Regions from separate parts of the Homo sapiens genome. Here region 2 is linked to region 1. Evidence: fine-mapped expression QTL. Tissue or cell type: whole blood. Region 1 holds a variant in brackets; the other region holds the start of a gene. All regions are shown on one strand. Distances are between the middles of the regions.

Region 1 (8,000 bases):
GCAGAATTTAAATGCAGGCATGTATTTACTAGGTATAGGGTAGGCATATCGCCAATTTTAGTAGATAATGCCAAATTGTTTTCCAAAGTGAGTATACCAACACATGAGATTTACCAGTAATCTACATTTTCACCAGCCCTTAGAAACGTCCACCTTTTTATTTTCTGACAATCTGGAGGATAAAAAAAGGAACTCTGATGTGATTTGATTTGCCAAAAAATCATAAAATATATAAAAATACATAATATATTTTATGAAATATATTTTAATTATATATGTATATATGCATGCACATATAAAATTTGTGTATATCTACCAAGAGCTTTAACTCACCTGTTTGGAAAGTGACTTCCAAGTTTTGGCAACTAAAATAAACAAATGTAAGATAATTAGATAATAAATACTTCATGGAATATATATCCATATTTGCTAACCATCTACAACCATAACTCATAACCAAACTTTTATGTCCAAAAGGCAAAGTTTTCTTTTAACCTCAAAATTTGGATCTGTGATATGATCTTATATATGTTATCTATTTGCTTCATATATACTATGCACTGTTCATAGTAAGTATCAGTGATACAGGAAACATTTCTCCACAGCCGTATCATCTTAATTTGGGCTTTCTGGACTAATAAAGTAAGCTAACTTTCTCCATGTTAAACATCTTGTGGGCTTAAAAGCACAAATAATGATACTTATAAAATATTCAAACTAGAATATAAAATAACATTAACATAGATAAACTATAATTTTAAGGTATTACTTGTGATCTTTGCTATACTAGTGTTCCATGACGTAATTCACAGGTCAGGTCTCTCTAGGATGAAGAAGGATTGGGGAAAGAAAAAAAGAAAGGAAAGGGAGGCTAGGCAAAGTGATGGGGAAACTTGTCCTGTTTCATTACTCTTCCCTACAACTATTCAAGAAGCATCACTGGAGTAAGAGTGTTACAGCTGAATAAAATGTCAGGGATCACTTTCTTTTTGTGATTCCTCCTCACACCCCCAAAGATCTCAAACACTGTAAAACTTAAAATGTTGGGACAAATGTATAGTCAGTATTGCTATTTCCTTTGCTCACATTTGAACACTGTAAATATTTAATGCCTGCCTAAGAATTAGCACCAGGTTTACATTTGATTAAGCCCTGTAATACAGCTGTATTAGGAAACTGGTTAATATTAATTATTTCAGCTACATTACAATAATGCCAACCAACATCTTCTTCTACCTGGCAATGGGGCTATTTCTGTATAATTAACAATATATCAAATTCAAAATTACAAAAAAAGCAATTTTTGCTGTGTAGTTTTTTCTTTATTAGGCAACAAAACAACTCAATTTAAAATCAAAAGAGAAGAAATATGTTTCTAAGGATAGATTTCTTCTTTATGTAGCAACAACATCCTTCATCTATCCAAGATAGTTGATACAAATGTGTAATCAAGTGATTCAAATCACAGGTCTACAAATTAGAATTTAGCATGTAAACTTAACTATGACACTGGTGCAAAGACACTTCCCTTTTAACAATGAACAGAACAATACAAATAGTATTTATTATTCTGTTGCTCTTAAAATATAGCAGTAAGGAAAGAAGAAAAATAAATGGTAGAAAAGTACATGCACGTGCTCTTATGCAATGCTCAGAAGGTATTTATCGGAAGAGGAAGTTAGAGGTACTCTTGAGTTTTGCAGGGTTTATGAGATTTCCATGGTAAATTATTCACAAAAGACATATTCATTCTGTCGGAAATGTCACCATGTTCAATACTATTATCTTTTTAAATAAAGACTAAAGAGCCATTAAGATTGCTCTTCAAAGGATTTTCTGAATTCCTTATTTCATATGAAGTTACTGCACATATAAATATAACTTAGGTGAAGAAGGACTTCAATTCTAGTGGAAATATTATTTCTTAAGCTGTAGGTTGATGTTCATTATATTTTTAATACGTTTTTGTATGTCTGAAAAATTTAATATATTTTTAAAAATCTAAATTAAAATAATTCTTGATGCTATGTTGGAAAATAATTACTGATTTTAGTTCTAGAAAAGAAAGTCACCATTTAGGTTCTATTTAAGTATGCAAAATAAGATTATAATGCAAAATCATAATCAACAGATATCTCAACATTTATTTGATCTATAATTTTTAAGCAAATATTTACACAGCATACCATTTTTTCCCTGTTGAATGTCATCATAAAATGATATCAAAAACTTTCAAAAATAATGGCTATGATTTTAAACAGCGAAAAAAATGGTGTGCCGTGTAAATATTTGCTTAAAAATTATCACAGCTATGGGCTGGGCATGGTGGCTTACGCCTGTAATTGCACCCCTTTGGAGGCCGAGGCAGGAGGATCACCTGAGGTCAGGAGTTTGAGACCAGCCTGGCCAATATGGTTAAACCATGGTGAAACTCCAGCTCTGCAAAAATACAAAAATTAGCTGGGCATGACAGCAGCTGCCCGTAATCCCAGCTATTCAGGAGGCTGAGGCAGGAGAATCACTTGAACCCAGGAAGCGGAGGTTGCAGTGAGCTGAGATCACCCCATTGCGGTCCAGCCTAGTTGACAGAGCGAGTCTCCTCTTGGGGAAAAAAAAAAAAAATCATGGCTATGAATTCTGATGACGATGATGATGACATACCAATATTAAATGTTTACTGTGTGCCAGGTACTATACTAACCATAATTCATTCGATCTTCAAGAAAAACTTCATGAGGCTGTTATTTTTATAAATGAGGAAACAGAAGATTAAATAACCAAGTTTTCAAAGCCAGTAAATGCCAAGGTTTAAACACAAGTCAAATTTCATTACGCTACAGTTTTAACATATCTGATTTAATACTCAGTACATGAAACATTGTTCTATTCTTTTCCTTTTCTAAAACCCCAACTTTCAAAACAGGATTTATGAATATCTTGATCTTTTGTGATTGTTCCTAATTATGTTTGAAAAGTGCTGGTTAGAAATTAACTGAAGTTGTGGTTGTAAAATATCCTGTATAACTTTTCTATAATAGAAACCAGTTTTTTACTCTTAAGTTATGGTTTTAAAATATCTATGAGAAGAATCACCACAAAAGTTATTTCCAAAAAGCAAAATCGAACAGTGTGCTTCCAGTGAATGTATTCTGAAGAAAAAAATTCTAGAAAATAATGAAGTAAAATTTTTCAAAATATGAAACTGTGGCCAGGCACAGTAGCTCACGCCTGTAATCCCAGCACTTTGGGAGGCTGAGGCAGGTGGACTGCTCGAGCCCAGGAGTTCAAGCCAAGCCTGGGAAACATAGCAAAACCCTCTCTCTACAAAAAAATTTAAAAAATTAGCTGGTGGCATGGTGGCATGTGCCTGTAGTCCCAGCTACTTGGGAGGCTGAGGTGGGAGGATCACTTGAGCCTCGGAGGTTGAGGTTGTAGTGAGTAGTGATCACGTCACTGAACTCCAGCCCGGGGGACAGGGCAAGACCCTGCCTCAAAAAAAAAAAAAAAAATCTAT[A/CTA]TATATATATATATATATATAGATTATTAACAATCACTTAAAGAATAGCTTTCAAATATGTTTGAAAAAATTATAGAATTTGATATAAAATACCATTTAGCATCTAACAAATTCCTTCCTTCAAGAAATATTTATTGTGTACCTATCATGTGCCAGGTAACCATATTCTACCTTGGAGATGGTTCTGTATCTTACGTCGTCTTATAATATCGTAAGTTTCCTGAGTGCACAGACTTTGTATCCCCCTTAGCACACAGAAAAGAACCTTAATACAGAAGCAGACATATAAATATTCCATACATTTTTATTTAATTGATTTGGTACAACATGGTCTCTATATTTATTAGCAAATTAGTATTAAATCTATACTAACTCACTAATAAAGAATCTACATTGTACCAAATGGATTAAATAAAAAGGATATAACACTTATCACAGCCTTAAAATTCGTAAATAAAAAAAAAAAGAACTCTACTTAATTTTTCACCTTTCCCATCACTATATGGCCCTACATATTCCCAAAGTGGCTACTATGACTATACCATATACTGTCTTGATTTCATGTTTTTGCTTATGTAGTTTACATTTCTTTAAACGTTACTCTCATAGTTTCTTGTTAAAATCTTTTTTTTAATTTAAAATCTTGCATAATCAAAAGTGTCTACTTCAAATTCCATTACAGCTACCTTTCAGTTCCTTTCTCTTTTGCAATCAAATATTGTAAGAGAGTCCTTTACACTCATCGTCTTCATTTCTTCATCTGCTACTCACTCCTGCAATTGCCCTAATGACTCCACTGAAACATCATTTTAAAAAACCATCAATAACCTTCATGTTTTTAAATCTAGTGGACATTTTCCTGTTCTTATCTAACTTGAATTCTCAGTAACACTGCACTCAATTGGCAATTCTGGCTATTTTACTCGGCTTCCATGACTACATACCCTTATGATTTTCTTCCTATGTCTCTGGCCACTCCTATGTCCCCTTTTCTCATCCTTTCAAAGCCTTTTGTCCATTCATCTTTTAAAGAGCAGAAATTCCTCAAGGCCTAGTCTTTGGTTATCTATATTCTCATCCTATACAGCTTCCCTAGGCAATTTCATTCATACACATTCTATGAATTAGCAATAATGCAAAGATGAATCCTAAATATATACCTGAATCTCTTCCTTGATATCCAGTGGAAATAATCCAAAGAATCAAAAATTCATTAAAAGTTACTATGTCAAGTAGCCAATTTGTCAAATTATTGAGGATTTATTTTAAGGTTCATTTTTGCCATATTGCTGTCTCTGGAGGAAAAAATGGCTATAATTGTTCTAGTCTAAGTTAAAGTATTTGTGTGACAGTTTAAAGTAGATATGGGTCGAACAAATGATTATTTGTTATACTGATTTTTAGTGAGTGATCTTTCAGTGAAGTGAAATGAATTATTTTTTAAAAAAATACACTGTATCCTTTTATATATCCAAGGTATCTCAAATAGACATGACCAAAATTGAAATTGTGATTTTTCTCCTCAAACCTGGTCCCTAGTGCCATCCATCCAGGTAAGCCAGCCAGAAATCCTCGGTTCTCATTACTCTTTTACCACCATCTATAGAGACTTTTGAAGCTGCAACTACCACCAGCCAATTGTGATACAGTATCAAAGGAGAGTACCTATAATAATCTAAAAAGGCAATTAAAATACTCCTTTTTTTACTGTCCATGTCTGTGAGGTAGATTTTCTTCATATATTTCATGGAAAACAACATATTATAACAGATCAAATAAAAAAGCACACATGAGAATACAGCTGTCTTCTGTTAAGTTAGATATTAAGAGATTTGCAAGAATGTACATACTTCCAAAAATTTTGAGAACCATTATTCTAACATATGAAAAGGTGAGAGACAATGAAACTATTAATATATTTACACTGCAGGAGCTATGACAAACGCAGAAGAGATACAGGTAGAATTCTTGCCCAGGGCTAACCTCAAAGCCAGTCCTCTGAACTACTCTGTTCAGGTTTGATATAAGAATGAAGAGGCAGAATATGAGTCTTTTATAAAGAGTATCAAAAGTAAGATGGTGTTAAGCTGAGAAAGATGGAGCAATTGAAAGTTTCTGAAAAGAGAAGAGATGTGAGTAAGAGTTTGTAAGAAATATCAGTCTGTAACACTGAATAGCACAATATCATGTGAAATACCACATTACTCAGTTCTTCTAAAAAACTTATACTGCTCCATCCATTCACAAGCTAGAGATAAAAAAATTATACAATTATTAAGATAATTTCAAAAGTGTACTTACCTTTGGGCTCATCTGTTGTAACAGCCAAAATAAAATCATACGGAGTCATGAATAACTGCCCTTCACATTCTATAGAAGCAAATAAACGAAATCGCCTCTCCCGAGATGTGGCATAAAGGTCTAAGTCTTCAATGTCTGTTCTGCCAATAGCAACCTAAAGTTAAGAAAGCAAATACATTTGGATGATGTGAAGTAATACCTCCCTCTAGAAGATACTTTTAATTATGTTGAAAGTGAATAAACAGAGTAAATGAGGAAGTGTGAAAATATCGTCTTCTGAAAAACGTTAATCACTTTATAAATAAATTATTCACATAAATAAAATAAATTAATATTCGAAAGATTCTACAAAAAATATCATTAAGAGCTTAAGGATTTTAAACTGGCACTTTGGAGAAGTGATTTGTGATTTTTTTTTGGTTTATTTCTTAAGCTTCAGTCTTAAAGAACATTAAATTATGGAGCCAGTGGTACTTTTAGAAGGAACACCAGCGCTTGCTGAATGCCTACTATGTACTCTTATAGGCTAATGTATTTAATTACAAGTCTATTCACTAACATCCACTAATTTTCTAAAAGAATAAAGTAAAATCCCAATAGGCTACTTATAACTACCACTAAGGAAACCATTAGTGGTAATATTTAGATTAGAAGTGAAATTGCTAGTTCCAGATCACTACAGTATAGTGGCCATCATTGGTCTGAATTTTAGGGGTCTCTTTTCCTTCAAGACCTTTCCTTGTAGATAATATTCCATTGTTATTTTCTCTCTGAAGTAACTAGAGCAATTTTTTTTAATAAAAGGATTTATTTTCCTGATTACAAGAGAAATGCAAAGCTCTTACATGTAATTTAGAAGACAGAATTGTAAAAAATTTGTTAAGTATAATTTTGTTTTCTTTTTGGCAAAAAAGTGGGATTTTACCATACATGCTTCAATAACCTGATCTTTTTCACTTATCAATTATCAGGGCCATTTTTCTATGTCACTAAATATTCTAGTAGTTACCGTATAAAATTAGAAGACAGAATCTAAAAATTTATAGATAGAATTGTTTTTGCTTTCTTTTGGCAAAGAAAATGGGATTATACCATATATATCATTCAGTAATCTGACCTTTTTACTTACTAAAACTTCGGGGCCATTTTCCTGTGTCACTATTCCTGTAGAAGACCATTTTTGTTAACTGTATAATATTCCATAGAAAATGTTTATAGTATAACATAAACAATTCTACTTGGTTATTCATGTTGACTTCTAATCTTTTGCTATTACAAAACAATGGTATAATGACCAACCTTGAAAATATTCAGAAATATCCATAACAGTTCTTCAGGATAAGTTCTTTTTTTTTTTTTTAGACAGAGTCTCACTCTGTCACCCAGGCTGGAGTACAGTGGCATGATCTCAGCTCACTGCAACCTCCACCTCCCAGGTTCAAGCGACTCTCCTGCCTAGCCTCCCTTAATCCTTAGGAGTGAAACTGATTAGTCAAAGAAGACTTTTTAGTCAAACTGTCTTCATGGAGTTTATAGCAATTTACATGATTATCAGTAACACACAAATTATACTTTCACGTATTTTATAAAATGATTTCATATAAGAAAAAACTGTTTAAATATTTAGTACCTTGAGAAGCCATAACAAAAACAACCCAAAGAAACTTTTGGCAAGAATACTACTTTATTTCTAAGTTACATCTTATTAAACGAAAAGCCAGGCAAATGATTAATCTTTTCCATCATTCTGAAGACTAAGACTTCTCAAAACATTACAGGAGTAGTCAAATAAAAACTGAAAAAAAGTTTCGCTCCCCACTTCTAACGGCATAAGAAATGGAAGTTGTGGTGTCTGTCTTTAAGGAATGAATATCAATCTATATGGAAAGAGAGAATGCTGGCTGGAGAGACAAAAGGCACAAACAGAGAAACGGAATGGGTTAAATGCAAGCAAATAGAAGAAAGGTGCCATAGGCTGGGCTTAAAAAGAAGGCTTCAGGAAAAATGATAAATTTTAATGTCAAGAAAAGATATGAACATGTGGAGTTTCTACAGCATATTTGAAAGATGGCCATAATCTTCCTGGGCAGAGGATTCATATTCATGGAGAAGTGTAGTAAAAGGATGGTGAGCTAATGATTTCTGAATGCCAGACTAAAGCCCCGGAGTTTAATTTAACAGTAAA
Region 2 (8,487 bases), 40 kb after region 1:
AGTTGGGCTAAAAGCAGAGGATTAGATAACAATACCTAAGTATATCATTAGATACTCACCAACATAAGTGCTGTTACATATATGTGCACCTGTGCCTGCTTCCAGAAGACTACTACACCTCCCATCTCTATTTTTTGTAGACGCTCAACAGCATCAGAGAAAAAGAGGTATAAAATACTGACATTTGGATGTTACACTAATAAGAAGCCCATAATACTCACCAACATAAGTGGTGTTACATATATGTGCACATGTGCCTGCTGCCAGAAGACTACTGCACCTCTCATCTCTCCTATTTTTTGTAGACGCTCAACAGCATCAGAGAAAAAGAGCTGTAAAATACTGACATTTGGATGTTACACTAATAAGAAGCCCTTTCGTGCAGATGAAAGGACATGTTATGCACAGACACCCTCTGAGAGGTTCTCAAGTAAGAGACAGGTAACAACCACAGATATGTGAGGAAAACCTCCAAAATGAAAGCAAGAGCTTATAAAATCAAACAGAAATAAAAAAGAACCTGGAAGAAACAAAGCAATGCACAGAGAAGGCCAAAGTTATAATTTATATCCTTAGAAGGCAAAACAAAGTTATAATTTATATCCTTACAGCAAAAAGAGAAAATATAGCAGCCATATAGAAAGCAAAATAGAATGCTATAACTCATCAACAACAGAGAACACAAAGTCGCTCTTTGAATTAAAAAAGTAGAATAGCAGAAATAAAAAAATTCAGTAGGAAGGTTGGAAGATAAAGCCCAGGATATCTGCTATAAAAACAAATAAACAGATGAAAATATTTTTTAAAACCGAAATATAAGAATGATTAGAATTAGATTAGGATCTGTCAGGAAATTTAACTTCAAAGAAACAGCATTTCCAGAAAAAGAGAATAGAAAGAGGGAGAAGAGAAAAATCATCAAAGAAACAATAGAAGAAAATTACACAGAATTTTTTAGACACGGATTTCCATATTGAAAGGCCTCTTAAGAACCTAGCACAATCAGTGAAAAAATACACATCCCGAAGCTCATTACTGTGAAAATTTCAAGCACCAGGGATAAACAGATCATAAAAGTTTTCAGAGAGGGAAATACAAAAGGCATGACAATCAGAAAGTAGGACTAGAGGCTAGGGAAGCATAAGACACAGGACTTTAACATTATTTGACTTCTAAAACAATGAACAGAAATTTTTATAAACACTAAGCAATAATAACTGCACAAAAGTACAAAATAAATAAACGAATAAAAAATAATTTTTTTTTTTGAGATGGAGTTTCGCTCTTGTCACCCAGGCTGGGGTGCAGAGGTGTGATTTCGGCTCACTGCAACCTCTGTCTCCCAGGTTCAAGTGATTCTCCTACCTCAGCCTTGCCAGTAGCTGGGATTACAAGCGCCCAACACCACACCCGGCTGATTTTTGTATTTTTAGTAGAGACGAGGTTTCGCCATGTTGGCCAGGCTTGTCTCGAACTCCTGACCTCAGGTGATCTGCTTGCCTCGACCTCCCAAAGTGCTGGGATTACAGGCGTGAGCCACCACGCTCAGCCAAAAAATAAATTTATTTAATGTTCTTTAGTAGTACCATTGTTTTAAATATACTGTGTTAACTCATTTAACTCTCATAACACCCCAGGAGACTATTAGCCTCATTTCACAGGTGAGGAAACAGGCATTGACAGGTCAAGTAATTTCTCCATAATGACACAAGTAGCAAGTCGTGGAGCCAAAGTTCTAGCTTTCTGAACGTGGTCTTTTTAAAAACTGCAAGATAACATCTCTCAACTGTAAAAGTAAAATTAATTTTAAGAAAGAAAAGAAAATACTACTTGAATTCCCTACCTTGCTGATCTGTTCCTAGACCAACTATGGTTAATTAAAAGTTCTGCCATCATGAAAAACGCTATGCTCCTTGCCAAGCCACAAAAGTGGATGTGTATTTGTGAAGGGGGAGGGGGTGGAGATTTGAGGGTATTTCCTAGTATTTTGAATATTCATGTGTAAAAGGACTTTATGTTATGTGCTTGTGATCTGCTGCTAGATAGTCCATAAAGCAGATTCCGTAACCTAATTGCATTGACAACCTCCACCAAAGGAAATGATGCACTTACATCAGATCACCACTGCGTATTAAGAACAAAGCCTATAAAAATTGCATTAGAAACAGCATAGCTCTCTGTTTTCTAAATTATTTTCATCTACGCCGTTCACATTCTTCGAGCCTTGCAAGGAAAATCTCCTTAATTTTCCTAGTCATTTACATGACTATTAAATATACTGATGCGACAAAAAAAATCACGCTCCTTTACTCACTGTTGCCTTTCACACATCTTTACCTTGTATTATTAACTACATAATGACAGTTGAACATTTTCACGTGACTTTCTTCTGTAGGAGTTTGTGTCATTCACAGCCTCCTACATTTGCTATCCTATCCATTTTGTGTTTTATCGTTACCTACTAACGGGATTCTGGCTTTAGTGGGGGAAGGAAAAAGAGAGAAATACTTATGTCTCTTTTTGAACAATTTTTTATTTCTTTTCAGACCTGGTAACATCAACATTCCCTGGGTATGATAAGGGCGTTAGCATGCAGGTTTAGCATTTCCTTTCTTGGGACTAATAAATTCTCATATGCTAAAGTAGTGGCTTTTGAGATCTCAGACCGCTGCTTCGAAACTCATTCTAATGCAACAGACCTCCTGGGTCATTAGCTGTCGCCCCGCGCAATCTAGGAGTTCCTTTTTCCCACACCTACAGCGGTCCACTTTCTGCCTGTCATGGCCTTCATTTCTGAATCTTTTTTTGTAAGAGGGGGAGGGGTGTTGGTTTTGGGTTTGGATTGATACTTGGTAGCTGCAGCCACCTTTAAGGTCCTGATGCATCAGGGACAGCATCACTGGTCTTCCCAATACGTGGGTGACCGGATCCTAGGCTGTCCGGCCTAGGTGTCAGCCTCGCTCACGGGAAGTTCCTCACCCGCGGCCACAGCGCTTGCACCGTCCCCACAGCCTCCAGGGTCCTGCGTACCCGGCACGAAGGTCACATCCCCCGCGCAGGTGTGACGCGCGCTCGCGCACTCACCGTCTCCTTGGCAGCCGCCACTGGGATGGGCAGCATCCCCCGGCCGCGGGGCGGGTCCTCGGGCTCCGTGGCCGCGCTCTTTGAGGGTCGCCCGGTCGCCGGCGAGCCGGCCCTGGGGTCCCCGTACAGCTGGTAGCATACCAGGCCGACCAGCCCCCCGCCGGCCGCCGCCGCCACGCTCAGCTCCCCCCAGCGCCGCCGCCGCCTCCATGCCGCCTCCGCCACAGCCCTCTCCTCATCCTCTCGGGAGGAGAAGGGCCGGCCAGGAAGGCCCAGGGTGGTCACCGCAGGCCGCCCCCACGGCCCAAGGAGGGGCTGGTGAGCGCAGAGTGGAGGAGACACCCGGGGTGGCGGCCACAAGAGCCTTCGCAGCGCAGCCATAGCGGAGGCCGCCCACACCAGAGCTGGGAGGGGGCAGAGAACGGAGGGGCGGGGGCGGGGGGGGGGGTCGCCGAAATCTCGCGAGAAGTCGGTGCCGCGAGCTTCGCGGCCGGCCGAGAGCGACCCCTACACTCGCGCGGCCCCGGGGACCCGCGACGCCACCTTCAGCGTAGCGGTCCCGTGGTTCGGCCCGGGAAGATCATGGAAGAGGCGGCGGATCCCGGCTGCTCCCCGGCCCCGAACCCCCAGCCCAACCACGCAGTCATAAATAACCGCGCCAGCCCGGCGACACCTGGCTACGCGACAGCGCGACACTGCGGGCACAGCCGAGTCAGCGTAACTGAGGCGCGGCCGAGTGCGGGGCTCTCTGGGGCCCGCGCCGCTGCTACGGGCGGGGTGGGTCTCCGAGCTGGGCTCAGCGCCCGTCTGGGACACTCACATTCCCTAACGGTCTCCTGACCTCAGGAAACTCAAGGTCTTGACTCAAGGTCGTGAACGATTTGCAATTGTATCTTCACATATACGACACAAATGAGGTATAAGCATTTGGCTCAAGTCATAACGATTGCAAATTAAGGCAAACACTTTGACGACTGAAGGGCAGCTTCCGGACTTTTGATGGGAGAAGGCTAATGCTGTTTTTTAGAAGCATTAGCACACCCGCGGTCACTTAATTCAACAAATCAGAACTGTCTTGTGCATATAAAAGTTAAAAATTTTAAAACTTCTGTGAATAAAGATAAAATCTTGAACGATACCCTGATTTTTCAGGGAAGCGCTGTTTGTATAAATATAAAATAAATGAGAAGCGTATTGTGTCATCTTTTTGTTTTTACTGTACTTTTTGTTTGCTATGTTATCAGTATCAGTTTTTATGAGAAAGTGTAGATGAAGTTCCTATCAGTTTCTCTCCCCAGACCCCAGTTTTGGTAACTTGAATTATGTTAGCTTTTTCTTCCTACTATGGAATGGTGCCAGGAGTCCCTAAAATATTGTGGATCTAAGGGGACAGACAACTAAATACAGTGGTCTCAATTGGGCTGCAGTGACAAGAGAATACACCATCAGTTGATTCTGGCAATTCTTGTAAAGACTAAAGGCTTTCAGAGACGACCAAATGAGTTTTTTCTGGCTCAGGTCCTACAATTTCTTCCCTTTTTTTTTTCTTTTTTTGAGACGGAGTCTTGCTCTGTTGCCCAGGCTAGAGTGCAGTGGCACATTCTCGGCTCACTGCAACGTCCGTCTCCCTGGTTCAAGCGATTCTCCTGCCTCAGCCTCCCGAGTAGCTGGGATTACAGGCACCCGCCACCGTGCCTGGCTAATTTTTGTGTTTTTAGTAGAGATGGGGGTCTCACCATCTTGGCCTGGCTGGCCTCGAACTCCTGGAGGTCCTGCAATTTCTATTCCTAACACCTTGCATGTAAATAGCACATCAGGTACACCCTGTTACCTCTTATTTTAATAGAGGTTAATGGCATTTTGCTTTCTTAAAGCTGCTAAAAGCGGTAAGAAGAAAAATCTTCTGTAGCAGATGAACAAATTTTGTGTATTTTAAAACCTGTCTCTGAGTTTTCTTCAGTTTCAGCCTGTGGGTTTTATGGAGTCAATGCCTAAGGAAGACTCTGATAGCGTCTTGCTTTATCACCAAATTTTCCTCAATTTATGCTTTCTCTATATTCTGTGAAATGGTAGTTTCCCCAAATAAATTATCTTCTGGGTAATAATTATATATATTATATATAATATAATAATCATATTGGCCGGGCGTGGTGGCTCACACTTGTAATCCCAGCACTTTGGGAGGCCGAGGCGGGTGGATCATGAGGTCAGGAGATAGAGCCCATCCTGGCTAACACGGTGAAACCCCATCTCTACTAAAAATACAAAAAACTTAAAAAAAAAAAAGCCAGGTGTGGTGGCATGCGCCTGTAGTCCCAACTACTCAGGAGCCTGGGACAGGAGAACTGTTTGAACCCGGGAGGTGGAGGTTTCAGTGAGCCGAGACTGTGCCGCTGCACTCCAGCGTGGGTGACAGAGCGAAACTCTGTCTCAAAAAAAAAAAATTATAATAATAGTTCTGACACTGTTTACTTTGAACTGAACATGATTTCCTGATTTTCTCATAAATTCTTATTATAGTCTAATGCCAGAATTCTTGGACAAACTGATCAATTTTTACTAGTTGCATGTTAAAAGCTAAGTAGTTCTAAAGAAGATTAGGGAGGTAATACAATAACATCACATTACAGATGAGGAAAATGACATCCTTCATCTAAGATGACAAATACAGACACATACGTATAGATTTCTATGTAGTTTCTCTATAGTTTTCTAAATTTGATAGAGCTCCTGCAAACAATTTATCTGGTTAGAAGCTAAGTACTGCTGTGAGAAGGGCTAAGTTTATGTTTGTAGATCAGTCAGAGAACTTTGGATAAAATACCTCTCACGTGCAAAAACAGCTTTACTAATAATTTTCAACAGTACTTTCCCTCTAAAGGTGAAATTTCCTTAAGAATAGTTACTGTTTTCTTCCCACGTTTGATGCTCTGTAACTATAGCTACACAAAAATAACCAAATTCCCTTGTTATGTGGATATTTTTCTGAGTTTAATTCCCAGAGGAAAAATTTTAAGAAAATATGATATTAGGAATTTGGAACCTTTTTTTTTTGAAATTTCAGGTAATATTGTTGGATCAATATAGAGTCAACCCAGTATCCCTTATCTTTTATGTCAATTCTACTGAGCATTAAGAATAACCCCCAAAATGCCCCTACTCCACAGTGAGAGCCCACACCTTGAAAGAAATATCCACTTATCGTTCACTATGGTCTAAATAAAAAGAAATGTTCTGAAACAATAAAAATGTTTCAAACAATGGGGATTAAGCCAAAAAGGGTTTTCCAGGAAAGCATATACCTCAGTGAATAAGTAATAAATTAGAAGTGAAGAAATCTGGACTCCAGTCTTGGATTTGCTGCATCTTAATTATAATGCTTTGGAAGCCACAGTCTCTAAAATAGTGGAGTTGAAATAGATGATCACCCCTGAACCCATCTTTCTAATGAACTAAAATGCTCCAAGTGTATCAGTAAACCATAGAAAGATACTTCATGGTATTTTTCATGTATCATTTCTCTTCTGAAAATCTACAATTGGCCTAAGATTGTTTTATTCTTTCAACTTAAAATTCCATCCCCGGACCACGCAGGCTAACGTCTGTAATCCCAGCACTTTGGGAGGCCAAGGTGAGTTGATCACTCAGGAGTTCGAGACCAACCTGGGCAATATGGCAAAACTTCGTCTCTACAAAAAATACAAAAATTAGCCAGGCATAGTGGTGCGTGCTTATGGTCCCAGCTACTCGGGAGGCTGAAATAGGAGGATGGCTTGAACCGGGGAAAAGGAGGTTGCAGTAAGCCATCACTGAGCCACTGCACTCTAGCCTGGGTGAGAGAGCAAGACTATGTTTAAAAAAAAAAAAATCCATTCCTTTATCTAATTATTTTAACCTTCTACTGCATTTAAAATTGCAAATACGTTAGTGATTTTGAAAAGTTTGAAAAAGTGGAATATAAGTGCAATAGGCAGGAATGTCTTGTTTAACAAAACTTCTATTAAAATATACTGCATTCCTTATTTTGGTCATTCTGAGCTCCAGATTCTTGACTAGTTAAAAGAGCAGCAGTTACATCTGAGATCTGTATCAGGGCACATGAACCACCCCATCCCCAGGTCCACTCAAGTCTACCAGCAGAGAGCAAGGTTGCAACCATCTTCTTCTCTCTTGGGAAAGTTGTCATCATTTTCTCAAATTGCCTTCCACCTTCCATGCTGTCTTCCTTAGGGCAAAACTGACATAGGAGACAGTGTTGGGGAAGGTATGTTCTTGCTCTGTTTTCTTCAAAGTGCTACCCACCAGCAATCTAGAACTCAATTCCTCAGCATCCAGGGCTATGGAAACCAAGTTACACAAGACACTGAGGGTCTGTTTTCTGTTTTGATGAGCTCTCATTCCCAAAGACTGTGATCTGTATCTCACCCTTTTTCCATTAGGCAAAGCCAAGCTGACTCTAAGCAACATGAGGCCAGGGTATGCATCTTCTAGCCCAGTTCCTGGCACACATTAGGACCTCAATTATATTTACTAAATGAAAAGCAATGTCTTGAAAAGGGGGGAAGGTGGAGGTCAACATAGGAAGGCAAGTTAGGTGACAAGGAAATACAATGGCCCATCAGACACTAAACAAGCTGACAAACCAAGCAGCACATCAATGAGGAAATGCAATCAACACAGATGGGAGGCCAAAGGGAAAAAGCAAGGGACTGGCAAAGAAGGATCACAGATAGAGTGTGGGCTAGGTGAAGTGGCTCACACCTGTAATCCCAGCACTTTGGGAGGCCAAGGCAGGAGGATCATTTGAAGCCAGAAGTTCAAGGCCGGCCAGAGAAACATAGTGAGAACCTGTCTCTACAAAAATTAAAATTAAAATTAGCCAGGAGTGGTGGTGCATGCCTGCAGTCCCAGCAGCTCAGGAGGCTGAGGTGGGATGATTGCTTGCCCCAGGAGTTCGAGGCTGCAGTGAGCTATGATCATGCCACTGCACTCCAGCCCCTGGGTGACAAAGCAAGACCCTCTAAAAAAAGGGGAGGGGGGTGGACAACAAAGTATGATCATGCAGAAAGCTTGATTCAAGAACAGATTTTGTGATTTTCAGATTCTAGCACTGAAGTTATCCTGTTACTATGATTTGGCCGTATCCTCCTGGACTAGAGCCTTAAAGCCATAGGTTTTCCCCAAGGCTCTCTCCATTTTTTTTTTTTTCTAGGCGGAGTCTTGCTTTGTCACCAGACTGGAGCGCAGTGGCGCGATCTCGGCTCACTGCAACCTCCGCCTCCCAGGTTCAAGCAATTCTCCTGCCTCAGCCTCCCGAGTAGCTGGGACTACAGGCGAGCGCCACCATGCCCAGCTAATTTTTGTATTTTTAGTAGAGACGGGATTTCACCATGTTGGCTAGGA

What was found. PIP is the estimated chance that this variant, and not a neighbour inherited with it, causes the effect.
Region 2: it holds the start of MICU3, and the variant in region 1 is fine-mapped to the expression of MICU3 in whole blood (INTERVAL, PIP 0.95).

The regions. Positions count from the first base shown.
Region 1 is chr8:17,062,053-17,070,052 of GRCh38, reverse strand. MICU3 (mitochondrial calcium uptake family member 3) reads right to left here. Exons shown (of 15, transcript NM_181723.3): 2 at 5,816-5,969; 3 at 334-365. Among named protein-coding and RNA genes, the nearest start is that of MICU3, 39 kb to the right of the region's middle. The variant A/CTA (reference allele first, on the strand shown) is at 3,515.
Region 2 is chr8:17,022,258-17,030,744 of GRCh38, reverse strand. It overlaps MICU3 (mitochondrial calcium uptake family member 3), which reads right to left and starts at 3,507. Exons shown (of 15, transcript NM_181723.3): 1 at 3,085-3,507. The coding sequence starts at 3,465. RefSeq lists an enhancer at 2,880-2,969 and a silencer at 3,120-3,529.